Linked DNA regions of Homo sapiens. The protein of the gene in region 2 interacts with the protein of the main gene of each other region in a pairwise test. Each region holds a gene or a part of one and is shown on either strand. Other genes may lie near its edges. The genes, in order: TASOR2, TRIM74, PHYH and PSMF1.

Region 1 (7,026 bases), on a different chromosome or scaffold from region 2:
GTCTCAAAAGACTGCTGAAGATCCCAAAGATCTTTTGTTTATTGGATTATATCAATTGATAATTACCGTATTAGATATTAAAACTGATAAATTTGAAATGTATGTTTATTTATTGGTACCTTTAAATATAATAACCCATTACATCTTAACATATTTTATCTCCCCAAAATTAGTGACAAGAATGGGATTTTTGTACATTTTTGCAAATACGCTGAAGGTCTCCTTTAATGACTAGAGTCTCATCTGCTTTTGTATTCATTGTGTTGCCATGTATTATTTTGGTTGAAGTGCATGAAGAAAATCCAGCGTCATTCAGCTGAGTAGTTAGAAAAGAGATGAATATTTTAATAATCTTTTCAGATGATTATGTTCTTTTTTGATACTCATCAAAACCTAACAGTTTTGTGTTTTTGTTTCTGTTTTGTTTTTTAGGACAGTGTCTTGCTCTGTCGCCCAGGCTAGAGTGCAGTGATGTGATCATAGCTCACTACAGCCTCCAACTCCTGGGTTCAAACAATCCTGCCTCAGCCTCCTGAGTAACTAGGGCTACAGGCACACACCACCAGGCCCAGCTAATTTTTAATTTTTTTTTTTTTTTTTTTTTTTTTGTAGAGACAGTATTGCTATGTTGCCCAAGCTAGTCTCGAACTGCTGGCCTCTAGCAGTCCCCCTGCCTCGCCTCTCAAAGCACTGGGACTATAACATCCAGCCCCTAACAATTTGTTAAACGTTAGCTGCAGTGTAGAATTGCAAATCATATGAATGAACTTCTCATGCTCTGACATTAACATTGGCCTACCATGCACTTTCAAGGGCTCTTTTACCTACACATGTGTCATTTGGAAAACATTGGTTCACTGAATTGTGCAGCTCTTTCACATGACACATTTCATTATATAATTTCAGAAAATTGGTTGGGTGCGTGGGCTCATGCGTGTGATGCTAGCACTTTGGGAAGTTGAGCTGGGAGGATTGCTTCAGCCAGGTTTGAGACCAGCCTGGGCAACATAGTGAGACCCCATCTTTACAAAAAAAAAAAAATTAGTGGAGCGTGGTAGCACACACCTGTGTTCCCAGCTACTTGGGAGGCTGAGGTGGGAGGATTGCTTGAGCCCAGAAGGTTGATATTGCAGTGAGCCATCATCATGCCACTGCACACCTTCCTGGGTGACAGAGCAAGACCCTGTCTCCTTTAAAAAGTACAGTTTTTGGAATGGCTTTTATTGAAGATCTATTGATGATGAACACTCAGTTTTTGTTCACCTGAAAATGTCTTTATTTTGCAGCCATTCTTGAATGATGTTTTTGCTGAATACAAAAGTTGGCAATTGTTTTCTTTTAACATGCTGAAGCTCTTATTCCTCTGTCTTTTGGCTTTCATTATTGCTATTGAAAAGTCACCTATCAGTCTATCAATTCATTTTGTTCTGACTGTTTTTTGTGGGTTCTTTTGTTGTTTGTTTTGATCTTTAGCTTTTTGCTGCTTTGCTGTTAACTTGTATGTATTGGCCGGGTGCGGTGGCTCACGCCTGTAATCCCAGCACTTTGGGTGGCCGAGGTGGGCGGATCAAGAGGTCAGGAGTTCAAGACCAGCCTGACCAATATGGTGAAACTCTGTCTCTACTAAAAATACAAAAATTATCCCGGCATGGGGGTGCGCGCCTGTAGTCCCAGCTACTCGGGAGGCTGAGGCAGAAGAATTGCTTGAACTCGGGAGGCAGAGGTTGCAGTGAGCAGAGATCACGCCACTGCACTCCAGCCTGGGCGACAGAGCAAGACTCCATCTCAAAAAAACAAAAAAACAAGCATGTATGTATCTTGCTTGGGATTGTCTTCTTAAATCTGTAAATTGGAGATGTTTTTAAATGTGTTTATTCATAATTTATTAAATGTGATTTCCATTCGTGTTATTTATCTTAATGTATAAATAATTTTTTAAATTATCTACATAGTAAATATTCTCTTCTGGTCTTTTACTCTTCTTTCACTTTGTTTCCCACAGCTTCCCCAACAGACATACATTGCCAAACTTGTGGATTTTTGATAATTTTTGATAAGTTAAAAGTAAAACAGGAAATCTCTGGAACTAGTCTTTTGGAAGAGGGGGTAGAGTTTTTGACTACTCTTTTCATTTTCTTCATCATTATTGGTTTATTTAAATGTTTCTTCCATTTAGACCAATGTTGGTAAATTATATTTTTATAGTTTTCAGATTTATTGATATAAATTATACATGGTGATTTATAATTTTAGAAATATCTTCCTTGTATTTGTGGTTGTATCGTCTTTGCTTTCAATATTTAATTTTTTCCTTTTTACTTATTTATATTTGCTAAAAGATTACCTACTTTATTATTACTCTACAAATAACCAGCTTTTGCTTTTATTGCTTGGCTTAGTTGGCTTTTTTAATTTGCTTTTTAAAATTACTGTTTTTATCATAAGAAATGTATCTGGAGTGTACTTTGTTTTCTCTTAGTAAGATTTTAATTACATTTAATCGGAGAACTAAATCCCTTGCTAATATTTTGTATAAAGATTCACTACCCTCCTTGGCATGGTGAAATAGACCCTGTTTAGAACCTTTCATGTACACCTGCTCCCTCATTAGGAGAAGGAATATTCAAGATCCCAATGCCTGAGGTTTGTCCAGTTGGGGCACCTACTTTACCCTTGTGCATATCCCCTATTTATCTGTGCCCAGGACATTTTGCGTGGGCTACGTGTAGAGGTGGTGGCCATACATAGTTATCTTTATTCTGGCATAAATCAGATGTCACGTTCTCTTTTGCCATATGTAATAATCAAGAGTACCCAAAAGTGGGTCTTGAAATATAATTGTTTCTGAGAGGAACTTATTCTCAGGATATTTTTGTAAGAGGGACAAAACTACTTAACAGTGTGTATCCTTGCAATAAGTATATTAATGAATACGATACAACCATTTTATACAGGCAAAAGATGGTTTAATGCCAAAGCACAAACTCATAAACCCAGTTGATGAGGAGCCAGAACAATGGTCATTACTGTATAGAGATGTTTTAAAAAGTCACCATATAAGCTTTGAAATAATTCTAATGAAAATTATATGACCTTGAGGCTGGGCGCGGTGGCTCATGCCTGTAATCCCAGCACTTTGGGAGGCCGAGGTGGGTGGATCACAAGGTCAGGAGATCGAGACCATCCTGGCCAACATGGTGAAACCCTGTCACTACTAAAATACAAAAAATTAGCCGGGCATGATGGTGCATGCCTGTAGTCCCAGCTTCTTGGGAGGCTGAGGTGGGGGAATCGCTTGAACCTGGGAGGCAGAGATTGCAGCGAGCCGAGATCACGCCACTGCACTCCAGCCTGACGACAGAGTGAGACTCCGTCTCAAAAAAAAAAAAAAAGAAAGTTATATGATCTTGAATATAAAAAGTATGGTCTCTAAAGAATTTGTTGTTGTTTTTACATAATGTAGGAGGAAAAAAATTGTGGTGTTTATAAGCATCAGCCTGATTACCAAAAATACTTTTTGTGGTAGACTGGATTTTGAGAATGTTAAAACAATCTTCAAAAATTGAATATTAAATCCAAAAATAAGCAAGCCACAGCTAAATGAAAAAGTCATAGTACATAGGTGTAATACACTTTACTCAAGGGGTGTAATTCCAAAAAAAAAGTTTTTAAAAAAGGTAATTTGTCTCCTACTGGATATACTAAATACCTTAGTGAATTTTTTATTTTGAATAGCTCTTTGTTAATCTACATAATTGTTTATGAATTTAACTTGCTTTATAAGTTCAAATTATCCTATATGCTATACAACACACTAATGGTAATGATGAATAAGATCTACTAATTAGGCTTTCTTCTGGGCAATGCATGTGGGTATCTTAGATTGCTTAGTTAAAACATAATGAGTAAAGATGTCCTTAGATCAGGCCAAACACTTCATCTTCCCCCTGCACCTCCGTTTGATTAAATTTTTCGTAAATTTTGTTAGGGCTGCATGGCTTATTGGGAAGGGACCTCATCCCTACCCCAGGCATTGGTATCAATTTTCCTGAAGCTATGTGAAGTATTAAAAAACCATATTCAGGCCTGGCATGTTGGCTCACGCCTGTAATCTGAGCATTTAGAGAGACAGAGGCGGGCTGATCAGTTGAGGTCAGGAGTTTGAGACCAGCCAGGTTAACACGGTGAAACGCCTTTACTAAAAATACAAAAATTAGCTAGGCGTGGCGGCCCATACCTGTAATTCCAGCTACTCAGAAGGCTGAGGCAGGGGAATCGCTTGAAACCAGGAGGCAGAGGTTGCAGTGAGCCCAGATTGTGCCACTGCACTCTGTCTCAAAAAAAAAAAAAAAGCCATATTCATTATGACTTTTTAATTTTGTGACATGTATAAATACATTTTTTATTATCTACATAGTAAATTTAAAAAGCTGCATCAAACTGTAGCCGGTGAGGCTGCATAAATGATGTGGGACGAAGAGTTATAATAACTTGAGATCACTGTAGTGAAAAGAACGTGTATTTTAGATTAGACCTGAGATTGATAGATATCCTTACTAGGGGCTTGCGGGTAGGACACTTAAGGAAATTGGAGCTTGGAGTGAGCTTTGTAAAATAATACTAAAACCATCCTCCTAGTGGGGTTACTGTGTGACGTCCAAGAACTCGGGGGCAGTTGGCTTGCTGTCCTGTGCTCCGTTCTGACGACTGAGCCCGCCCAGGTCTGCAGGGTCCTGGGGTCCTGCGGGTTCTGTAGGGTTCCCTGGTGTGTGGAGTCCCTACCCGCTACAAGCTCCGTTGGGTCTACGGAGTGTGCGGGGATCTCCCAGCCCTGTTGGCTGTACGGGCTCAGTGGGGTTTGCAGGGATCCCCTCGTTCTGTGGGGTCCGTGGGCGCCGAGTCAGGGCCATGCCCCTGGGCTCCGCTCGCGGAGCCGGCGTCGCCCTTGTTGACTTTCAAAAGGCGCCGCCGGCCCCGCGCCCTACACGCTCAGCACGCCCTGCGCGGAGTTCCCCGCTCTGGCGCACTGGCCTTGGCTGGCGGGAGGGGGCCGGAGGGGCTGCCGGCGGAGCAGAGACACAGCCACCCTCCCCAACACACCATGAGGTGAGTCGGGGAGGGGCCTAGGTCTCCCACATGCTGTTGTGGGAAGCTCTGACCCCCGCTGTGCCTGGGGCGGGCTCACCCACGGAGGTGACTGTTAATACAGCGCTGAGTGCGAAGGAGACCCGAGAAAATGGGCCTATTCTGTCTAGTAACGTTTTACCTTCTGGTGAGGGTGTGGGGAGAGAAGCTTTGGCAGGGTCAGTGAGGCCCCGCAGCAGAGCCCTGGTGATGAAAGACACTTTTGTATGGTACCCGAAGGCTTAACTTCACTCCTGATTGTGAGTGGATTGTGTGTGGTAGTGGTGGAGCCCTTGCAGAACCGCCAGAGAGACGGTGCTAGTTGTGTGTGTGCCTATGTAAACCTACAATAGCTAAGGTCATCTTTTGAAATGTAGAACAGGGATTGCACATTGACTTTGCGCTTCAAGTATTTGCAGGTTATTACCTTAGTTTTTACTCCCTTTGTGCGTGCCGTGATTATCTTGGTTTAAACTCGTATGTGGCAAGAAATTTTTTAATGAATGTTTAAGTTTCTGTGAAAATTGTGTATTTCTCAAATTGTATTTTTTGGCTTTTAATAGGGTCACTTTGTTTTCTGGGTCTCTGTTTTGACTTACGGGAAATGCTATTTGTTTTCTCTACATTTTCTTCATTTAAAAAAAACCTGTAACTTCAGGAGTTCAAGACCAACCTGGGCAACCTCATCCCTGGAGGAGGGGGGAACCCCCACAAAACCACAACTATAACTGGCTGCTACTTAGGACTACAGGAGATCTTTTTTCCAAAGTGGAAATAGCTTTATTTCACCCAGATTATGTTTATTTAAAATTTCAGATAATATATAAAGCTGTAAAAAGTAAAGCAAAAACTACCTGTACTTGTCCCATCCAAAGATAACTTCATAGAATATTTGATTATCTACTGTGGTGCTAGGAGCTCTGTTGGACCCTGGGGACTTTGGTGAACAGACAATGCCTGCCTCTATAAACCTTACATTCTGCTGGGGAAAATAGACCTCTCCCAACCCACCAAAAAGTAAATTTATAATAATTCCATGTTCTAATGCTTTAAAGAAAACACTTGCAGCAGGGTAATCCGAGGTTTATCTGAGTGGATGACTTAAATAGATGTCACTAAAGGAACAGAAAGAGCTCAACCATGGGAGGAATGGGGAGAAAAAAAAAAGAATTCTGGTCAGAAATAACAGCATGCACAAAGGCCTTAAAAGAGGAAAAAGCTATAAAAAGAAAAATCCATGTAGCTGCCACTCAGTAGTAAGTCAGGGAAAAGTAGAGCAAGATGAGGTATAGGAAATTGGCAGGGACCAAATTTTACTTGTCCATGGCCAGGAGGGTGTGTTTTGTGTTCTGAGGGCAGTGAGAGGGTACTGAGGGGCTTTAATTAGAAATAAAGTGATCTGGAAAACTAATTGATTAATTTGTTAAGTAAATATTTATTGAAACCCTACTGTATAACAGGCACTGTTCTGAGCACTGGCATACAACAATGAAAAGGACAAAGCCCTGTATTCATGAAACTAATCTAGTGGTTGGAGGACAATCAGATAAACAAGAAAAAATACCAGATATTGATAAGTGTGCAGAAGATGACCATTGTTTAAATTGTGGTTTATATTCTTTAAGATATGGTATATTACACATATACTTCTTTTGGAACTTTCTCCTGAATAATTTATGGTAGGACATTTTTCACTGTTACTAAATAGTTTTCTTTGGGGGCATCTTAATTTGTTTTTGGATTAAGTATGGTAAAAAATAGCATGCATAAATGAAGAAATACTGTGCAGCAACAAAAATTTGCATGTTACAAAGCATCTGGTGAACGTTATATAGTAACTTCCTTTTGACAGTCTGACATGTGGCTCTCCTACCCCCATCCCAGACCCCAGCTGCCCCTTTG
Region 2 (7,026 bases):
AAATGACCCTGCAGATGGCCCCTTTCATGCTTGTCTCCAAATTTGAGTAAAAAATGTAGACACACACACACACACACACACACACACACACACACGTATCTTCAAGGGACCAGTTTTTTCACTGCAGTCTTTTGTTTTACAGCTGTGGAAACTGAGGCCCAAGGTCATGTGGGTTAGGACTGGGATCCAGGACTCAAAGTGTTTCTTATAAAATTCTGGTGCTCCTTAGGGTTGAGGGTGGTGGGTGAGTGCTGGACAGGGGGAGGGGAGTGGACAGGACTGAGGTCGGATGCCTGTGTTTCAGCCCGGGCAGTGAGTGTGGATGGCTTGGCAGGTGAGCCTGCTGGAGCTGGAGGACTGGCTTCAGTGTCCCATCTGCCTGGAGGTCTTCAAGGAGTCCCTAATGCTACAGTGCGGCCACTCCTACTGCAAGGGCTGCCTGGTTTCCCTGTCCTACCACCTGGACACCAAGGTGCGCTGCCCCATGTGCTGGCAGGTGGTGGACGGCAGCAGCTCCTTGCCCAACGTCTCCCTGGCCTGGGTGATCGAAGCCCTGAGGCTCCCTGGGGACCCGGAGCCCAAGGTCTGCGTGCACCACCGGAACCCGCTCAGCCTTTTCTGCGAGAAGGACCAGGAGCTCATCTGTGGCCTCTGCGGTCTGCTGGGCTCCCACCAACACCACCCGGTCACGCCCGTCTCCACCGTCTGCAGCCGCATGAAGGTGGGGAGTGAGGGTGCAGGCGGGGCGGCGGGGCCCGCGGGGACTGGATCCTGTGCTCTCTGGCGCTATCAACTGGCACCAAAACGGATCCAGCTATCCTCGATTTCCCTGCAGCCCTGCCCTGGCGCATTCATTCCTTAGTGTTTGAGCGGCAGCTAAACCCAGGTGCTGGGGATTGAAGCTACACGCACAGGATGGGAGCTCCCTGGTGTCACGTGCTCACCCCTTCCTGTTTTTTGTTTGCAGTTCTGGTTTGTTTCTTTTTCTTTTTTTCTTTCTCTCTCTCCCGCCCCCTTCCCTTCCTCTCTCTCTCTCTCCCCCTCCCTCGCCCGCCCCCCCTTTCTTTTTCTTCTTTCTTTTTGGAGACAGCGTCTCACTCTGTTGCCCAGGCTGGAGTGCAGTGGTGTGATCATGGCTCACTGCAGCCTCCAACTCCTAGGCTCAAGCAATCCACCCACCTCAGCCTCCCGAGCAGCTGGGACTACAGGTGCACACCACCATGCCCAGCTCATTTTTTATATTTTGTAGAAATGGGGTCTGGTTATGTTGCCCAGGCTGGTGTTGAATTCCTTGGCCTCCAACGATCTTCCTGCCTGGGCCTCCCAAAGTGCTGGAATTATAGGCATGCACCACTGCCCTACGCCCCTTGTTTGTGTCTGGACACTCCCCTGTTTGCACTCTCTGGTGCATGAGAGTGGGGACTTCATTTTGTCCCCTGGTGTATTTCAGTGCCTGGAGCCATGCCTGGCACATTGTAAATGTCCAAAATGCTGAATCAGTGAATTCCTGCCTTTATAGGCCATCACCAAACCTAGCAGATCATTCTTTAAGATGAGTAATAATAATACCTGACTGGGTGTTATATATATAAAACACCTGTTATAAAACACGTGACTGGGTGGCTTATGCCTATAATAACAGCACTTTGGGAGGCCGAGGTGGGTGGATCACTTGAGTCCAGGAGTTTGAGACCAGCCTGGGCAACATAGTGAGACCCTGCCTCTACAAAAGTTTCAAAATTAGCCTGGTTGGCCAGGCGCAGTGGCCACTCCTGTAATCCCAGCATAAAGCTGGAGGGAGCATGGGTGGGGGCGAGATAGGGCCAGCGAGGTAAGCTGCGGCTGGGGCATGGAGAGGCCAGTGTGACCCGGGAATGGATTTGGAGTTTATTCACAGGATGAGGGAGAAAGGCGGGGGCTGGAGTGTTTTAAGCCAGTGATGACATGCTCAGATCTCTCTGGCAGAGGGGAGCTTTGAGGGTGAGGCAAAAGGACAGTGAGAGATGAAGGTGCCAGGACCTAAGTTGGTGGGAACTGGGACAAAGGCCTGGGGCAGACCAAAGACAAATTTCAAACAGAAAAAAACCCTGACAACTGTGTGTGGCAAGGAGGGTGAGGGATGGGGAGGTTGACTCCAGCTCTGTAATTCCCCCTTGCACAGAGGAAGTGATCGCAGGGGAGGATCCGGCGTGGGCAGGTGGAGCGGGAGGTGCCTGGGGATGTGCAGTCGGGTTGAGGGGTGTGCAGACCAGGACAGCGGTGGGGCTCAGGGCAAGAGGTGTGGAGGGTCCTTCCTCTTGGTGGTCACTGAAGTCCCCTTTGGTGGAGAAGACCAACCCAGGAGAGTCTACATAGTGATAAGGGAAGACACTGATGATGACCCCAAGGGGTACCAGGCTTAAAATCTGGATTGAGAGAGAGAGAGCCCTGAAAAAGGAATAGAAAGAATCCTCAGAGCAGGAACACCGGCTGAGTGTGGCCTCCCGGAAATCAGAGAGACAGACTGAAGGAGGAGATCACGTGTGTGAAATGTCTCTGAGGACTGAAAAGTGTTAAATGTAGCAGTAAGAACTGATTATCTTGGCAAGAGCAGGTTTAGGGGAGTATGGAAGGTGGAAGCCAACTGCAGGTGAGGAAGCCGAGTTTATGTTTTATTAGTTGATGGGAAGGAGGGAGGGAACAGGCTGGGAGATTGTCTGTCCTTTGTAGTTAGGATCCAGCAGCTCAGCTTGGGTCCCTGTTTTAGATTTGGGCTTAATTTTTTTTTTTTTGGTAGAGACAGGGTCTCACTATTTTGTCCAGGCTGGACTCAAACTCCTGGCCTCAAGTGATCCTCCCGTCTCGGCCTCCCAAAGTGCTGGGATTCCAGGCATGAGCCACTGTTCCCGGCCAGATTTGGGTTTTGATGATCCCGAGGCTCTTCTCTGTTGCAACACAGAATACAACTAAATTGCACTCCTTTATTGCCCTCTTTAAGGTGTTCCCGTTGCCTCCTGTTTATTGAGATCTTGAGATGCTCGATTGATGGGTGCATTGATTTGCATAACTTAGTTCTTCTCACGGGGAAGGAATGAGTCCCGTCTGTCTGCCTGGGGAGGGTGACATTGGAATGCTGTTCTTAGGCCTCTGTGAGATGTTCTGATGCCTCATTCTCCAGAGCAAGGACTCTGTCCGTTTATGCCAGCAAGTGCTTGATTCTTTACCCAACTCCCTTCCTGAAAGCCCCTTGCAGCTCTCTGGTGCTTGGGCACGATCCAAGCCAAAAATTCTGTACATTGCATGGGTATAAACCGACGGGGGCTCTGGTCAAGTCATGGAGTAGATGGTGGTCCAGGAGTCCTGGTTGGCACCCCCAAGGCTAGGTCAGATTTGGGGCCCGGGCAGTCCAGGAGAAGTGCATTTATGTCAGCTTGGGGAGGTCGCAAATCCGTGCTGTGTCCAAGCCCACCAGGAATGGATTCAGGTGTTTATAGGTGTGGGGATTCACCAGGTTAAACCCAGGCCCGTGTGAGCACCACTGGCCCTAGAATTAGCCTCACCTGGCGCCGGCCTTTTTGTGATGGCTCCTGATTAAATACCCACTAATTCTGGATCTGCTGGTGACCACAGAGTTCACCTGATGGGTCCCCTACAGGCAGCATTCAATCCAGGAAGTGCCAGCATCACATGGTGACTTCTGGTAGCTGTAACATTTAGTGACTGTCTCCATGTCATGCACAGGGGTGACATCGAGACCCTCTTATGCCTGGGAAGTTCCTGCTGTCAATGCAGAATATTCTCTTTTTTTTTTTTTTTTTTTGAGACGGAGTCTCGCTCTGTCGCCCAGGCTGGAGTGCAGTGGGCGATCTCGGCTCACTGCAAGCTCCGCCTCCCAGGTTCACGCCATTCTCCTGCCTCAGCCTCCCGAGTAGCTGGGACTACAGGCGCCCGCTACCACGCCCGGCTAATTTTTTGTATTTTTAGTAGAGACAGGGTTTCACTGTGTTAGCCAGGATGGTTTCGATCTCCTGACCTCGTGATCCGCCCGCCTCAGCCTCCCAGAGTGTTGGGATTACAGGCGTGAGCCACCGCGCCCGGCCCAGAATATTCTTTGAAGAAAAAAAAAACATTAGAGATGGGATTTCACTGTGTTGCCCAGTCTGGTCTCAAATTCCTAGCCTCAAGTGATCCTCCCATCTTGGCCTCCTAAAGTGCTGGGATTACAGGCATGAGCCACTGTGCCCAGCCTAGAATATTCTTTTTTTTTTTTCTTGAGATGGAGTCTTGCTCTGTTGCCCAGGCTGGAGTGCTGTGGCGCAATCTCGGCTCACTGCAACCTCCTCCTCCCAAGTTCATGCCATTCTCCTGACTCAGCCTCCGGAGTAGCTGGGACTACAGGTGCCCGCCACCATGCCCGGCTAATTTTTTTTGTATTTTTAGTAGAGACAGGGTTTCACTGTGTTAGCCAGGATGGTCTCGATCTCCTGACCTCGTGATCAGCCAGCCTCGGCCTCCCAAAGTGCTGGGATTACAGGCGTGAGCCACCGCGCCCGGCCCTTAGAATATTCTTGAATTATCTTATTTTTTATTTTTATTTTTTGAGACAGAGTCTCACTGTGACACCCAGGCTGGAGTGCAATGGCATGATCTCAGCTCACTGCAACATCAATCTCCCAGGTTCAAGCGATTCTCGTGCCTCAGCCTCCCAAGTAGCTGGGACTACAGGTGTGTGCCACCACACCTGGCTAATTTTTGTATTTTCAATAGAAATGGGGTTTCACCATGTTGGCCAGGCTAGTCTCAAACTCCTGACCTCAAGTGAAGTCCCACCTCAGTCTCCCAAAGTGCTGGAATTACAGGCGTGAGCTACTGCGCCCAGACTATTCTTGAACAATTTAACCTGTTTTGGACTCAAGGGTACCTGGGTGGCTCTGGTTCCCGCCCTGGTTTCCCTGGGAGTGCTTGTGGCCATTGGGATACTCCCAAGAAGGTGATCCAAGGAGCTGAGAAGGGGAGGGATCAGCTGCTCATGGGGCCATGGCCTGTTGCCTCCAGGAGGAGCTCGCAGCCCTCTTCTCTGAGCTGAAGCAGGAGCAGAAGAAGGTGGATGAGCTCATCGCCAAACTGGTGAAAAACCGGACCCGAATCGTCGTGAGTGCCCCTTCCCTCTGCCCCTGCCTGGGACCGGCCACCTTCACTTTCCTGTAGAGCTCAGTTCTCATTGGTCCTTTACAGAAAACCATGCCTTCCATATAAAGCCAGAACTCAAAGCATTCCGGGGCGGGGTGGGGAAAGCGCAAATCCTCTCAGGGGAATTCAACCCAGTTGTCGTTAGGACTGGCTCCAAGTTGGCTTTTGCCCTCTGTGTCCTTGAGACTGAGATAACCCAGGACTTGAGTCTCGGGGGTAAACAGCTGAAAGCATGGGCGTGACTCCTCCGCCCCTGTGCCACCTGTGTCTGCTTGACCTTGCCAGCCTGTCATGGTGCCCTCCCAGTACCTGGGTGCGCAGGCGTGGAGAGGCTGGCAGCCCTGGGCCCTGGCTGATCTCCTGAACTGAGAGGCACATGGGGCTGGGACGCATAGTGCCCCGGCCCTGGAGGTGGCTGTGAAACAGAAACAGGAGCCGAGCAAGATCCAGAAGCACTTGGCCTCCCTCATTTACCCTCCTCACCCTTGCGCGGCAGGCGGTATCAGCCCTGCCTGGTGGAGGCGGAGCTCAGGGTTCTGCAGGGAGTTCTGGCTCCCTCACAGCAAAGCCCGCTCGCCCAGGGCCTTCCTGCTTTCCTTCAGTTGTGGAACTCTGGGATATGCACATTTAATAGCTGAAATAGGCAAAGTGGGGTGTGGTGGCGTGCATCTGTAATCCCAGCAACTCGGGAGGCTGAGGCGGGAGGATTGCTTGAGGCTGGGAGGTCAAGGCTACAGTGAGCTATGATCGTGCCACTGCGCTCCAGCCTGGGCAACAGAGTGAGACCCTGTCTGTTAAAAAAAAAATTAAAAATTAAAACAGGCCAAAGCAGAGCCTCTCCATTTGAAATGGGAGCTGGGGCCACCCTCCCCACGGCCACCGCCAGGGCTCCCCATGCATGGGGTGAACTCCCTGCCCGGCGCCAGGCCATGCAGCCTCCCCTGAGACTCAGGTCCCAGGACCAACCCGGTCAGGAAGGCCCTGGGGACACCGAGGCCAGCCAGACAGAGCCTGGCAGCTCGGCTGTGACTCTGCAGTGAGCAGCCCTCCCTGTCCCAGAATGAGTCGGATGTCTTCAGCTGGGTGATCCGCCGCGAGTTCCAGGAGCTGCGCCACCCGGTGGACGAGGAGAAGGCCCGCTGCCTGGAGGGGATAGGGGGTCACACCCGTGGCCTGGTGGCCTCCCTGGACATGCAGCTGGAGCAGGCCCAGGGAACCCGGGAGCGGCTGGCCCAAGCCGAGTGTGTGCTGGAACAGTTCGGAAATGAGGACCACCATGAGTTCATCTGGGTGAGTGGACAGGGAGGCGTCCCATCCCCATACCCGCCAGGGCCTTCCCCTTCCCAACAGTGCCCTGGCTTCCCACCTTCTAGCCTTAACCTCCCTCTCTCTTGCCTTCCAGAAGTTCCACTCCATGGCCTCCAGGTAATAACCTTGGAGAGAGCTCAGCCAGGGTCTGGTGGCTGCGGGCACGGGCATCTCAGCTCCACTGGTTCCTCCATTCAGCTTAACCAGCGCCTCCCAAGCAGCTGCCTATAGCTGGCTCTATAACTGAGCCTGGGGAAGATAGAGGAAAGTCACGTCCCTGCCTTCAAGGGTCTCGCAGACAGGTGGGGAGGCAGATGGTGAACTGTGGGTACCTAGAACAGCAGAAGTTCACTCAAGCTACAGAAATACTAGAGGAGGGTAGCTCATGCCTGCAATCCCAGTACTTTGGGAGGCCAAGGCAGGAGTATTGCTGGAGGCCGGGAGTTCGAGACCAGCCTGGCCAATGTAGTAACACCCCCGTCTCTACAAAAAATACAAAAATAAAAAAATTAGTTGGGCATGGTGGCATGCGCCTATAGTCCCTGCTAC
Region 3 (7,026 bases), on a different chromosome or scaffold from region 2:
CACCATGTTGGTCAGGCTGGTCTCGAACTCCTGACCTCAGGCAATCTACCCGGCTCAGCCTCCCAAAGTGCTGGGATTACCGGCGTGAGCCACCGTGCCCGTCCTGTTTTGTGTGTTTTTTTTTCTTTTTCTTTTCTTTTTTTTTTTTTTTTGAGACAGAGTCTCACTCTGTCGCCTAGGCTGGAGTGCAGTGGTGCGATCTTGACTCACTGCAACCTGCTGCCTCCTGGGTTCAAGCGATTCTCCTGCCTCAGCCCTCAGCCTTCCAAGTAGCTGGGAGTACTGGTGTGCACCACCATGCCCAGTTAATTTTTGTATTTTTGTAGAGACGAGGTTTCATCATGTTGGCCAGGCTGGTCTCAAATTCCTGACCTCAAGAGAGCTGCCTGCCTCAGCCTCCCAAGGTGCTGGGATTACAGGTGTGAGCCACTACACGTGGCTTAGAACTTTTTTTGACATCAGCCACTTCAAAGGGGATTTCAAACTTGACTCCATATCACTCTCTTCAATGTAATTAATGCAACTGGTTTTTGAACATGCATTACTGCATGCTAGGTACTGTGCCCAATCCAGGGTCACAAAAGAATAAAGCACAAGGCCGGGCGTGGTGGCTCACGCCTGGAATCCCAGCACTTTGGGAGGCCGAGGCGGGCGGATCACGAGGTCAGGAGATCAAGACCATCCTGGCTAACACAGTGAAACCCCGTCTCTACTAAAAATACAAAAAATTAGCCGGGCGTGGTGGCGGGCGCCTGTAGTCCCAGCTACTCGGGAGGCTGAGGCAGGAGAATGGCGTGAACCTGGGAGGCGGAGCTTGCAGTGAGCCGAGATCGCGTCACTGCACTCCAGCCTGGGCAGCAGAACAAGACTCCGTCTCAAAAAACAATAACAACAAAGAATAAAGCACAACAGAGATGAGGATGTTATACCGCTTGCTGGAAAATAGTGTGCATAAGTACTTAGCTACCAGCAACCCGGAAGAAGGGAGTGCGGGATTTGAAGATGTGGAGCCAGTGTGTTGATTTCCAATTTGGTGTTTATCTCTCCGGGGCTGATTTTCTCTAGCATTATTTCATTTGTTTGGTTCTTCTGGGGACAGGTCATTGTTTTTTCAGGCAAAGGATAAGAATTCTGAGACCAGCTTTTTTTTTTTTTTTTTTTTTTTTTTGGTTGGGGGTGGGGGACAGGGACTCGCTCTCTGTCACCCAGGCTGTAATGCAGCAGTGCAATCATAGCTCACTGCAGCCTCGACCTCCAGGCTCAGGTGATCCTCCCACCTCAGCCTCCCAAGTAGCTGTGACTACAGGTGCATGCCACCACACCCGGCTAGTTGTTTTTGTTGTTTTGTTTTGTTTTGTTGTTTTGTTTTCTGTAGAAACGGAGTCTCACTGTGTTTCCCGGGATGGTTTTGAACTCCCAGGCTCAAGCCATCCATCTGCCTCAGCCTCCCACTTTGGGATATATTTTTATATCCCAAAGTGCTGGGGTTACAGGCGTGAGCCACTGCACTCGGCCTCGAGTATCCTTTAGTAGCAGGTTTTCTTTTCAGGCAAGAAGACGTCCCGTCACCCCCTGCACCAGGACCTGCACTATTTCCCCTTCAGGCCCAGCGATCTCATCGTTTGCGCCTGGACGGCGATGGAGCACATCAGCCGGAACAACGGCTGTCTGGTTGTGCTCCCAGGCACACACAAGGGCTCCCTGAAGCCCCACGATTACCCCAAGTGGGAGGTAGGTCTGCCCGGCGGCTGAGTCTTGATCCGAATCTCCTTCGCAGTTTCTGTTTCACATCAGTACCTCTAAAGAGTTTACAAATGAGATGGCATTTCCTTTCTGAGCAAAACATTGTCCTAAGATTTGCAGTGAGGATCAGAGAAAGTTCAAGGATGTCAGAGAAAACATTCATCACACCTATTTTCAACACTTTTTTTGTTTGTTTGTTTTTGAGACAGGGTCTTGCTCAACTCACTGCAACCTCCAACTCCCAGGTTCAAGCCATCCTCCCGCCTCAGTCGCCCTAGTAGCTGGGACTACGGGTGTGCACCACCACGCCCGGCTAATTTTTGTGGTTTTAGTAAAGACAGGGTTTTGCCATGTTGGCCAGGCTGGTCTTGAACTCCTGACCTCAGGTGATCTGTTCACCTCGGCCTCCCTAAGTGCTGGGATTAAAGGCATGAGCCACTGTACCTGCCCTTAACACGTGTTTGAAAGCCAGCCAAGGTGGGGAGCTTGGGTAGGTACTGTATAGGATCCGAGATTGTAAGTCCTAGCTGCAGAGGTAAGACATAAACCCTTCGACCCCAGATGTGTGTGGTAGACACCAAGTCAGTCTTACTCACTAACTGATGGCTCTCAGAGTAAGGAAGGAGAGATTGTCTCCTTGCAACTGCAGAGACCAGCAAAGGATCTGGGGAGGCTGGTGTCTGACCTGAGCCTTGCAGGACAGTGTACAATGTCCCATAGGGAAGAGTCGATATAGGAAGGCACAAGGTCAAGGGCAAGCCTGAACTTGACCAAAGAACAGGAAAGACCCAGGGAGCTTGCAGTCTAGATGGGCTGGGCGCTGGGGGTGTATTTTGGGGAGCAGCAGAGGAGGTGAGCCCAAAAATGTACATTAGGACCAGATTAGAAAAGACTGTTTTACTAACAAGTCTGCAGTTTATTTGGGGGAAGAATGGGAACTTTTTAGTTCAAACTTTTAGGAAGATCGAAGACCCTTTTTGTTTTTTTGTTGTGTTTTGTTTTGTTTTGTTTTTGAGGAGTCTCACTCTGTCACCAGGCTAGAGTGTAATGGCACGTTCTCGGCTCACTGCAACCTCTGCCTCCTGGGTTCAGGTGATTCTCCTGCCTCAGACTCCCGAGTAGCTGGGATTATAGGCGCGCACCACCACACCCAGCTAATTTTTGTATTTTTAGTAGAGACGGGATTTCACTATGTTGGCCAGGATGGTCCTGATCTCTTTAACTCGTGATCCGCCCACCTCTGCCTCCCAAAGTGCTAGGATTACAGGCGTGAGCCACCACACCTGGCTGAAGAGCTTTTAATTAAAAAACAAACAATTAAACAAATAAACAGTTTCATTGAGGTATAATTGTCATGTAAATTGTACATATTTTGCATGTATAATTTGATCATTTTCCACACACACATACCTGTGAAATCATCACCACAATCAAGATACTCCATCCTTCTCCCTGCTCTAGGCAACCACTGAGCTGCTTTCTGTTACTGCAGGTTAGTTTGCATTTTCTAAAATGTCATAGACATGTAATCACATAGTATAGATTTTTTTGTCCCGTTCTGGCTTCCTTCACTCAGTGTAGTGATTTTGAGGTTCATTGATGCTGTTGTGTATGATAGTAGTTTTTTGTTGTTTTTTTTTTTTTTTTTGAGACAGAGTCTCACTCTGTCACCAGGCTGGAGTGCAGTGGCACGATCTTGGCTCACTGCAACCTCCGACTCCCTTGTTCCAGCAATTTTCCTGCCTCAGCCTCCCGAGTAGCTGGGACTACAGGCACAAGCCACCATGCTCAGCTAATTTTTATATTTTTAGTAGAGACGAGTTTTCACTATGTTGGCCAGGATGGTCTCGATCTCCTGACTTCGTGATCTGCCTGCCTCGGCCTCCCAAAGTGCTGGGCTCACCGCGCCTGGCCAACAGTAGTTCTTTCCCTTCCCTTGCTGAGTAGTATTCCATTGCATGGCTGCACCGTGAACCATGGTTTGTTCATCCATTCAGCTGCTGATGCTTGGAAATGTTAAATGCATTTGAGCTCATGAGTGATGGGATCAAATCGGCTCTTCAAGGACAGTAATGTCACGTTCTGGTGCAGGACGCGTTAGAGGTATAGGCATCTAGAAGCAAAGAAACCAGAGAGATGACTATTAACGCGTTAGGTCTAAGGTGAAAAGACCCTGTGGGAGCCAAAGTGGGAGGATCGCTTGAGCCCAGGAGTTCAGGACCAGCCTGGGCAACACGGTGAGGTCTCATTTCTAAAAATAATAATAATAATAATTAGCTGGGCATGGTGGCGCATGCATGTAGTCCCAGCTATTCCAGAGGCTGAGGCAGGAGGATTACTTGAGCCCAGGAATTCGAGGCTGCAGTGGGCTATGTTGGTGCCACTGCACTCCAGCCTGGGTGACAGAGCAAGTTCCCGTATCAAAAGAAAAAGAAAAGATCCTGGGCTGGGCGCAGTGGCTCATGCCTGTAATCCTAGCACTTAGGGAGGCTGAGGTGGGCGGATCACTTGAGGTCAGGAGTTCGAGACCAGCCTGACCAACATGGAGCAACCCTGTCTCTACTAAAAATACAAAATCAGCCTGGTGTGGTGGCGTGCGCCTGTAGTCCCAGCTACTCAGGAGGCTGAGGCAGGAGAATAGCTTGAACCCAGGAGGTGGAGTTTGCAGTGAGCTGAGATCGCGCCACTGCATTCCAGCCTGGGCAACAAAGCAAGACTCCATCTCAAAAAAAAAAAAAAAAGAAAAGAAAAGATCCTGGAATCCCATGATGCTGCGAATGGAAAGAGCCCCCATTGTTAAAGCAGGGAGAATGAGTTGTAGTTCGATAGGAAATGAGGAACATGGTTTTAGGAACTCCTAACTCGTCTGGACACAGTGGCTCACGCCTATAATCTTAACACTTTGGGAGGCCGTGGCGGGTGGATCACTTGAGGTCAGGAGTTTGAGACCAGCATGGCCAAGATAGTGAAGCCCTATTTCTACTAAAAATACAAAAATTAGCCAGGCATGGTGGTGTGTGCCTGTACTCCCAGCTATTCGGGAGGCTGAGGTAGGAGAATTGCCTGAACCTGGGAGATGGAGGTTGCAGTGAGCTGAGATCGCACCACTGCACTCCAGCCTGGGCGACAGAGCAAGACTCCATCTCAGTAATAACAATAATAATAATAATAGAACGTCTCAGATTTCTTGCACCAATAATTAGTGTCAAATGAAAATATGTGAGTGTCTGGATCCTGATATAAAACCATTTAATGTGAAACTCATCAGTGAAGCCAAGGTTTAAAGTTTGGTGCATGCAACTGCAGTGGGCTTTGGCTGACAGAAGGCAAAGGGAAAAGTTTGCAGGGCTTCCAGAGCGTGTGGAGTCTCAGATACCCTGCTCAGATGCAGAGTGGGAGGTATGATTAGCTTAGTGTGGGTCACACATTCACCCTGGCCAGGAGAGAAGGGCTCTGGGTCAGAGTCTCAGCACTGTCTAAGAGGGATGTCGTCATTCCCAGAAGGAACTGGGGATGCTCTTAGGAAGAGGAATGGGCTGCTTCCCTTACCCTGACTCCTAAGGTGCTTCTCATGTCAATTTCTTTAATAAAGACATAACCGCATTACCTAAAGTAGCAACTAATTTGGGAAATAGTTACAAACAAACACAGTGTTTTAATTTACTATTCTTTCATTATTCTGGATGTAACATAAGTGCCTTTGAGCTCAGAAAAATTGAGCATTTTCTCCCCCCTATTTTGGGGAAATAGCTTCTCAGAGACACTCCTGAGTAAGAGATGAAGGATTTATTTAAAGTTCTGGGCGAGGAGGAGAACACACTGGGAACACTCACAGTTTCAGGCTGGAAATGCCCAAGAGATAGGTGGTTGCCTGCATTAACCACAAAAGGCAAAGCTAAGCTAGATCTTCATGTATAATGCAGTCATGAAGGGCAGGTGGAAATTCCACACTGTTCATTTCCTCCAAAAAATCAGTGATTTTAATATCAACATGTGACTTCTTTTTTTTTATTACCATTATTTTTCGAGACAGAGTCTTGCTCTGTTGTCCAGGCTGGAGGGCAGTGGTGTGATCATGGCTCACTGGAACCTCCCCCTCCCGGCTCAATCGATCCTCCCACCTCAGCCTCCTGAGTAGCTGGGACCACAGGCTGGCACCACCACGCCCAGCTAATTTTTGCAGTTTTTGTAGAGATGGGGTTTTGCCATGTTGCCCAGGCTGATCTCAAACTCCTGAGCATAAGCAATTCTCCCAACTTGGCCTCCCAAAGAGATGGGATTACAGGCATGAACCACCATGCCCGGCCAAAATGTGACTCTTAAAAACCAGATATCTGAGAGGCTTTTGTATACTGAAAAAAATGTAAGCATTTAATTTAGACATTTATTTCTCTTGGGAGAGAGAAATGCTTTCTTTCCCTGATGTTTGCTTTCCCTGATGAACCATTGACAATGTTTTTAATTATGGTACTCCCTCAAATGTAGACTTCACTTGCCTCTTGTTCTAGGGGGGAGTTAACAAAATGTTCCACGGGATCCAGGACTACGAGGAAAACAAGGCCCGGGTGCACCTGGTGATGGAGAAGGGCGACACTGTTTTCTTCCATCCTTTGCTCATCCACGGATCTGGTCAGAATAAAACCCAGGGATTCCGGAAGGTAAGCATTCACATTGCTGCACCTGCTGCAGAAGTGTGGGTTAGAAACAAAAATTGTATTCAATTCATTGAATTCAAATTAATTGAATAAAATTTTAATTAAATTGCATTAACATTTTAAAGATTTGTGGCTTTTAACCAACCTGGACTTTAGTCCAGTTTATTTACCAGGAAATATATTTGCTTACCTTGGGCTTTCTGTGCTCTTATCAGTAAGAAGCCAGGTGACCTCAGGATCCTAACCTTGTCAATATTGATTATGGGCCGGGCGCGGTGGCTCATGCCTATAATCCCAGCACTTTGGGAGGCCAAGGCGGGTGGATCACGAGGTCAGGAGATCGAGACTATCCTGGCTAACACAGTGAAACCCCATCTCTACTAAAAATACAAAAAATTAGCTGGGCGAGGTGGCGGGCGCCTGTAGTCCCAGCTACTCGGGAGGCTGAGGCAGGAGAATGGCGTGAACCCCAGGGGGTGGAGTCTGCAGTGAGCCGAGATCGCGCCACTGCACTCCAGCCTGGGCGACAGCGAGACTCCGTCTCAAAAAAAAAAAAAAAAATTGATTATGAAAGCCAGGTGCAGTGGCTCATGCCTGTAATTCCAGCACTTCCGGAGGCTGAGGCGGG
Region 4 (7,026 bases), on a different chromosome or scaffold from region 2:
AAGCTCAGAGGATATTTGTGTTGCCTCTCCAGCCATCTGCTGTTTCCACCCTTCTGGGGGTGATAAGAAGGAGAGGAAGGTCCCAAGAGTGTATGCTTGACTATACAAGTTGACAGTTAAATGGAAAGCTAGATTGTCTGCTTTCTCTTAGGTTTTGCTTCCTCTGTTACAGGGGAATTGTGTACATAAAACTTGATTAGAAAACCAGTGCAGCCACTGGCTTCAACAAAAATCCAATACTTGAATTTGGATTTCTTTCTTGAAGTCAGAACCACTCCTCACAAGAACTTTACAGCTTTGTCAAGTGGTTTGGGTGCCAAGGGGATAGGTAAGGGATGACTTAGGTGGTTATCGACATAAGTTAGAGAATTTTGTTTTCTGTTGTGGGAAATCTAAGGATTATGATGAAAGAGAGAAAATGCCCAAAATGATCTGTTTAAGTTTCTTTGGGTGAATTTTAGTTCAGAGGCATTGGGGCAAATTCATGGCCATTAAAGAATGCTTCCAGTGCCAGGATTTTGCCTAAGAAGACAATTATCTTTATTCTCTTAGGGCCAGTCTTGTGGACCTGGCTGGGAAAAACCTTCTCTAGCCATAGCCTGGGCAATCAGGAGCTCTGAATTCCAAGCACAGCCCTACACCTGACTTGCTGAGACCTTGGGCAGCTCTCTGACCATCTCAGGCCTTAGAGTTTTCTTTTCTTTTTCTTTTTCTTTTCTTTTTTTTTTTTTTTTTTTTAATCCGAGATGTCTCACTCTGTCACTCAGGCTAGAGTGCAGTGGTGCTATCTTGGCTCACTGTAACCTCTGCCTCCTGGGTTCAGGCAATTCTGCCCCAGCATCCTCAGTAGCTGGGATTACAGGTCCCCGCCACCATGCCTGGCTAATTTTTTTTGTATTTTTAGTAGAGACAGGGTTTCACCATGTTTGCCAGGCTGGTCTCGAACTCCTGAATGCAAGTGATCTGCCTGCCTCTGCCTCCCAAAGGGCTGGGATTACAGGCAAGAGCCACCGCGCTCAGCCTCAGGCCTTTGATTTTTCATCAGAGGAAGTTAAACCACGTGACTGTGTACTTAGGCTACTTTCCAACTGTGGCTTTCTGGGACTCTTGATATTTGATGTCAGGGTTTACAGGGCAGTTGCAGACCATGTTTGGCCTGATATCGCCAGGGTCTGTCCTCTGTTTACTGGGGAACATCAATTGCACTGCAGTTAGAGATATCAGTTTCACCTGACTTCAGGGATTTTCTGTAACTCTGGAAGCCAAAGGTGATGGGGTGGTGAGCAGACCAAATTGTTTATATTCCAAGAGAGAACTCTGGTGGATTGAATGCTGTACATGGAGGATATAATATAAATTTAAAGGCGTTTGCCAGAGCAAAGATGAGGATGTCATCAAATTCCTGGCTTCCAAAGTAAACAAATCCACGACACTAAACACTAAACATATTCGGGAAATTTACCCAGTTTGGGGTGAGGGGATAGTTTCTTTTTCGCAGAAGAATGGTTTGATTAGTTTTACTTTTGTTTTTCCTCACTCTCATTTCTATGCTTCAGGCCTATGAATTTCATTGTCATCCAGCCAGGTTTTAAACCATGACAGTTGCGACATCCTGAATTTTATTTGGGATCTCTTTCCCCAGAGGATTTCTGAGCACCAGGGGTGACGAAACAGGAGAGGCCAGCAATTCTCAATGTGTGGTCTCCCCTTGTCCTTGGTGTGTGAAGTTTTGCTTTGCTGGACCTTTGTCTTTTCCATTTTCTTCATCTCCGGTCCCACTCCCTCCCGCTGTATTCTCATGACTACAGATCTTCCCAGTCCACCTGCCCCATGGTGAGCAATATAAATATACATCCATGAAAAAAGATTATAGCATTTTTTTGTGCTTTTTAAAATTTTTACATAAGTGGTACTGGAGTGTAAACCTCATTTTTTGGGGAACTTTTCTTTAAATCATATTTTTTCTTTTATATATAATACTATCATTAGATCTGGTTTATTCCTTCTGACTGCTATATAGTATTCCACTATAAGCATATTTTGCATTTTATCTCCACTTTTGCTACCTTAGCCAAGGCTATAATGAAGATCCTTTGTTATGTACCCTGTGCACAGGGTTTCTTCTGGGAGTAGGGATTTTGGATCATAGGATATTGGCTCATCTAATTGCACTAAAAACTGTCAGATTGCTCCCCGAAGGGGCTGTGCAAGTTTAAATGCCCACCAGCAGGGACTGGAGGTTCCCATTCTCCCCACACCTACACAGACATCTGGCAAAAAATAGAAAACTGGGTAATAACAGTCCGAATCATGTAACTTAGTGTCTCATTATTTCAGTTCTGCTTCTCTGATTGCTAGTAAAATTGAATAACTCTTTAGACACTATTAGCCGCTCTTTTTCTTGTTCATATCTTTTGCCACTTTTTGGAGTTCCCAATTGTTATTGTTCATTTTCCAGGCATTCCCTTTATGTAGAGGTTATTAATTTCTTTCCTTTGCAGCCATGGCAAATGTCTCTTCCTAGCCTGTGGCTCCTTATTAATTTAGTAGTGTCTCTGTAGAACAGAAGCTTTCAATTATGAACAGTGTCAAAGGCAGCATTTTCTTTTATGGATCTTGTTTAAGAAATCTTCCCCACCTAGAAATCACTATATTATTTTTCCTGTAGAAATAATTTGAGAACTATTTCTCAAACTTTAGTATGGAAAGTCTTAGGATTTTTAAAAAAGAAAAGAGGAAGACATCACAACTCACAATAAAAGATGTATTTTACACCCACCAGGCTGACAAGCATGAAAATGGCAAGCATTTTACCCCTACTAGATTGGCAAGCAATAATAGCAATGTTGCCAACTACACGGAGCAACAGGAGCTTTCATACATTGCTAGTGGGAGTATAAATCAGTAACTCTTTAGAAAACAACTTGACTTTATCTTATAAATTAAAAGCTTTTCCTCCATGCATACTGTATAGAAATTTATCCACGTGTACCAGATGTGTACAAGAATGTTCATAGCAGCATTGTTTATAATAGCAAAACAAATAAGCTGGAAATACTCCAAATCACCATCAACAAGTAGATGTATAAATTGCAGCATAGTCATACAGAATGCTGTGTAGCTGTGAATGTGAATCAGCTGTAGTTAAATGCATTGACATGGATACATTTCCAAAAACTATCAAATAAAAAAGGCAAATGACGGAAGTGATGCTGTGTATTTAAAATTCAAAAACATTTGAAGCTATATTTTTATGGTTGCATGTATAGTAATATAACTCTAAGGAAAAGTAAAGAAATTGTTTAAGAGTGGTGATTACCCTTGAAGGGGAAGGAGGGACATTTATTGGAGTATGCTACCCAAGGCTTTAGCAGTATTGCTGATGTTCTATTTCTTAAGCTGGTGGTAGAGACATTTTATAATTCTTTGTTATTTGTACATGTGCTACATTTTGTGTATTATGAAATTATAATTTTTGTACATCACTGCAGTCAGTTAGCGTGTATTCGGATCTGTGTTTTTAGTCAACACCTTGGTAATCCTATTGAAGTTAGCCTAACGTCCAAACTTTGAAAAACACTACTTAGAACTTCGCAGTGTTCCTCAAGATGACTGGCTTTATTCTTAGCAGTGGGATGGGGAAGAGATAATTATTAAACCAACACTGCAGATTCTTGACAGGTTCCAGTGCTGTGTCAGAAAGGTAGCTCAATATGAGGGAGAGCGCAGTAGAACAGAAGCCCAGAGACCTGGGCCCTAGACCTCTCTCTCGCTGTAGGATCTTGGGCAAGTCATTTCTCTTGACCTCCACATCTTCATCTGTGAAGTGAGGTGGGTAAGATTAGCTTATCTCGTGAGGTTCTTTATAGTTCTGTGTTTTGAGTTCATGATCTTTCTCCTCTCAACTGTGGTCTTCCCAGCCGGGTCCCAATGATAAGAAGTCAGAACTGCTGCCAGCTGGGTGGAACAACAATAAAGACCTGTATGTCCTCCGGTATGAGTATAAGGATGGGTCCAGAAAGCTCCTTGTGAAAGCCATCACCGTGGAGAGCAGCATGATCCTCAATGTGCTGGTGAGTCTCTGGGACACGTGAGTCTGCTGATGAGATGGGGATAGGAATGGCTGTTTTGAAACCCATTTAACGGTACGAATCCAGAGCTTCAATGTTCATGTAGCCCTTACCTAGTGATCCCACTTCTGGAACTTTATCTTAAGGTGAGAACCCTAAGTATAGAAAACCTTCGTGCACAAAGGTATCCACCACCTGGAATTAAGAAGGAGGGGCTTTCTGTCAACAGGGGAATGGTTAAATAAGGTAAATCTATTCAGTGACAAGATAGAAGGGAAAAACTTAGGTAACCCCAATGGGCTACTTCAGTTCCTTAAATAAATTGAATTCTTTGCTGCCTTGGAGCCCTTGCACTTTACATTTCCTATGCTGGAAGGCTCTTCCCCTCCCCCATCTGCCACTCACACAGCCCTTCACCATTCCTTCATCCTGGACAATTCTCTTTCATTTTTGACTTCCTCAAAAATTTCAGTTCTGACTACCCAGTCCTACTCCCCAAAAAAATCTAAATTATGTCTCTTTACGCCATCATTTTATTTTCCTGCCTGACACTCATTGCAGCTTGTAATTGTGTACTTATTTGTGCTTTGCTTTTATTCTGCCATGGGACTATAAGTGCCACAAGGACAGTGACTTTCCTTTTGTTAACTTTTTTCTTAGTGGTTTGGGTGTGACCATGTAGAAGTATCCTGCTGTATGTATTATACTGCACTTTGCTTTTTTTTCACTCGGTGTTTTGGAGGCAAGACCTTGACATGGAAATACATATAGATATACCTTATTTGTTTTAACTATTATATAGTTTCTCATAGCACCATAATTTCTTTATTCCTTTCCCTTTTGATGAACATTTAGATCTCGTGTCAGATAGGGTTCTTGGTTTCAAACAACAAAAACCTCTTGGGTTAGTTTAAGCAAAAAGGGTTTATTAAAAGAACCAGGATCACCCAGGCGCAGTGGCTCGCACCTGTAATCCCAGCACTTTGGGAGGCTAAGGCAGGTGGATCACTTGAGGTCAGGAGTTTGAGACCAGCCTGGTCAATATGGTGAAACCCTGTCTCTACTAAAAATATTTTTAAACCTTAGCCGGGCGTGGTCGTGGGTGCCTGTAATCCCAGCTACTTGGGAGGCTGAGGCAGGAGCATCCCTTGAACCCAAGAGGCAGAGTTTGCTGTGAGCTGAGATCGTGCCACTGAACTCCAGCCTGGGCAATAGAGCAAGCCTCTGTCTCAAAACAAAACAAAACAAAAAGAACCAGGATAGCTCATTGAAACAGGTTTAAGGCTAGGTTTCCAGAAGCAGTGTCCCAAATCATGCCCCGGAAACCACTGCTGCCACCACCACTGCCCAGTATTAGATACTGGCTGATTCTGTCTGCCCTGGTGCACCCTTCTCTTAAGCTGCTGATGTGACCCCCTGGCCTCTGTGCTACCCTCATTAGCAAGATGTCTGCCCCTTGCTGGGTCTGCATCTCCGTGTTGCTCACCTGCAGATCAAAGTTGATGCATCAGTTCAACACCTCAATTACCATGCCTGAGCCCTTTTGCAAAAGAGCCTGGGAAGTAGGTGTTTTAGTCTCTGCCTTGGAAAGGCAATATTCCTAAATCAGAGAAGTCTCCAAGCCTTAGGAAGGTATTTCATATAAACAGTCCTTATATATGTCTCTGTGGACATATGTGAATATTTCTTTAGGTTGAAGACTTTGTTACTCTCCCTTCACCCTCCCACTCTTAGCCAGAAATATCCCAGTCTCTCACTTTCTATTTTCACCCATCTAGGAATATGGCTCACAGCAAGTGGCAGACTTGACCCTGAACTTGGATGATTATATCGATGCAGAACACCTGGGTGACTTCCACAGGTACTTCTAAATGATGTCTCTTCCCTGGGAAAAAGAAGAGAGAACTAATGGCAAGATATGAGGAATAGGGTGGATGTGTCCAGAAAATTAAGGAAGGTGAATGGAAGAACCTTTTATTTCTGGGCACAACTTCCTAATTTTCTTTTCTGTTTTTTATGTATTTGAAGAGGAGACTTCCATAGGAAATGCCACATGAAACAAGATGGTGCAGTCAAGAGTCCACAAGTGCAGTGGTGGCTGCAGAGTAGAGGTGGAGCCCGGGCAACTCATTCAGTCAGAGCAGACTCCTGGGAGGATGTGTGCCTCATTGGGTCCCCAACCCCAATCTCCAACTTATTTAAAAAAAAATTATTTTCTTTAGGGTCGTTTTAGGTACAAGCAAAATTGAGCAGAAAGTGCAGAGCATTCCCATATTACCTCCTGCTCCCATACACCCACAGTTTACAGCTTCCCTGTGTCAATATCCCATACATAATGATTCATTTGTTACAACTAATGAGTCTACATTGACACATCATTATTAGGGCTCAAGCTTGCTGTTGTGCAGTCTGTGGGTTTTGACAAACAGATGAGAATGTGTGTCTATCATAGTATCACACAGAATAGTTTGACTACCCTAAAAATCTGTGCTTCTCCTATTCTTCACTCCCTTTTCCCTAACTGCTGGCAACCACTGATCTTTTGACTGTCTCCATAGTTTTGCCTTTTCTAGAGTGTCACATAGTTGGTATCATACAGTAGTATGATTCTAGACCTTTTCAGCAGATAGAGCTAGGAAAATTTTTCCTTATAAGTTTAAATTGCCACCTCTGTTTTTAATATAACACTACAGGATTCTTTTTCTCTTATTCCATACTTATATCTCCCTTCTCCTGTGGTGAGAACCCTGATTCCCAGCAGCATCAATGTATTTACTTATTTATTTGATCCTAGAATACACACAAATATTTTCTGAATTGCTACATCAGTGCCTACCAAGAACAAACCTATTAAGTAAAGTTCCAAATGACTTATTTCCAGTTCTTTTTGTCTTTTAACTATGTTCCACAAAAGATGTAGGCAGAGTAGTGTGTTCCAAAGGTACTTAGATTAGTG

What was found.
Region 1: the proteins of TRIM74 (region 2) and TASOR2 interact in binary tests that used the Homo sapiens proteins (3 or more experiments, as listed by UniProt).
Region 3: the proteins of TRIM74 (region 2) and PHYH interact in binary tests that used the Homo sapiens proteins (3 or more experiments, as listed by UniProt).
Region 4: the proteins of TRIM74 (region 2) and PSMF1 interact in binary tests that used the Homo sapiens proteins (3 or more experiments, as listed by UniProt).

What each region holds. Positions count from the first base shown.
Region 1 is NC_000010.11:5,687,813-5,694,838, forward strand, and holds part of TASOR2 (protein TASOR 2), read left to right. Parts: intron 1-4,985; exon of another isoform or gene 4,986-5,101; coding exon of another isoform or gene 5,102-5,106; intron 5,107-7,026.
Region 2 is NC_000007.14:72,959,454-72,966,479, reverse strand, and holds the end of TRIM74 (tripartite motif-containing protein 74), read left to right. Parts: intron 1-304; 5' UTR 305-322; coding exon 323-721; intron 722-5,034; coding exon 5,035-5,130; intron 5,131-6,228; coding exon 6,229-6,459; intron 6,460-6,571; coding exon 6,572-6,598; 3' UTR 6,599-6,995; downstream 6,996-7,026.
Region 3 is NC_000010.11:13,283,065-13,290,090, reverse strand, and holds part of PHYH (phytanoyl-CoA dioxygenase, peroxisomal isoform a precursor), read left to right. Parts: intron 1-1,549; coding exon 1,550-1,731; intron 1,732-6,251; coding exon 6,252-6,401; intron 6,402-7,026. UniProt on the Homo sapiens protein: Catalyzes the 2-hydroxylation of not only racemic phytanoyl-CoA and the isomers of 3-methylhexadecanoyl-CoA, but also a variety of other mono-branched 3-methylacyl-CoA esters (with a chain length of at least seven carbon atoms) and straight-chain acyl-CoA esters (with a chain length longer than four carbon atoms).
Region 4 is NC_000020.11:1,121,578-1,128,603, forward strand, and holds part of PSMF1 (proteasome inhibitor PI31 subunit), read left to right. Parts: intron 1-3,920; coding exon 3,921-4,073; intron 4,074-5,848; coding exon 5,849-5,931; intron 5,932-7,026. UniProt on the Homo sapiens protein: Plays an important role in control of proteasome function. Inhibits the hydrolysis of protein and peptide substrates by the 20S proteasome. Also inhibits the activation of the proteasome by the proteasome regulatory proteins PA700 and PA28.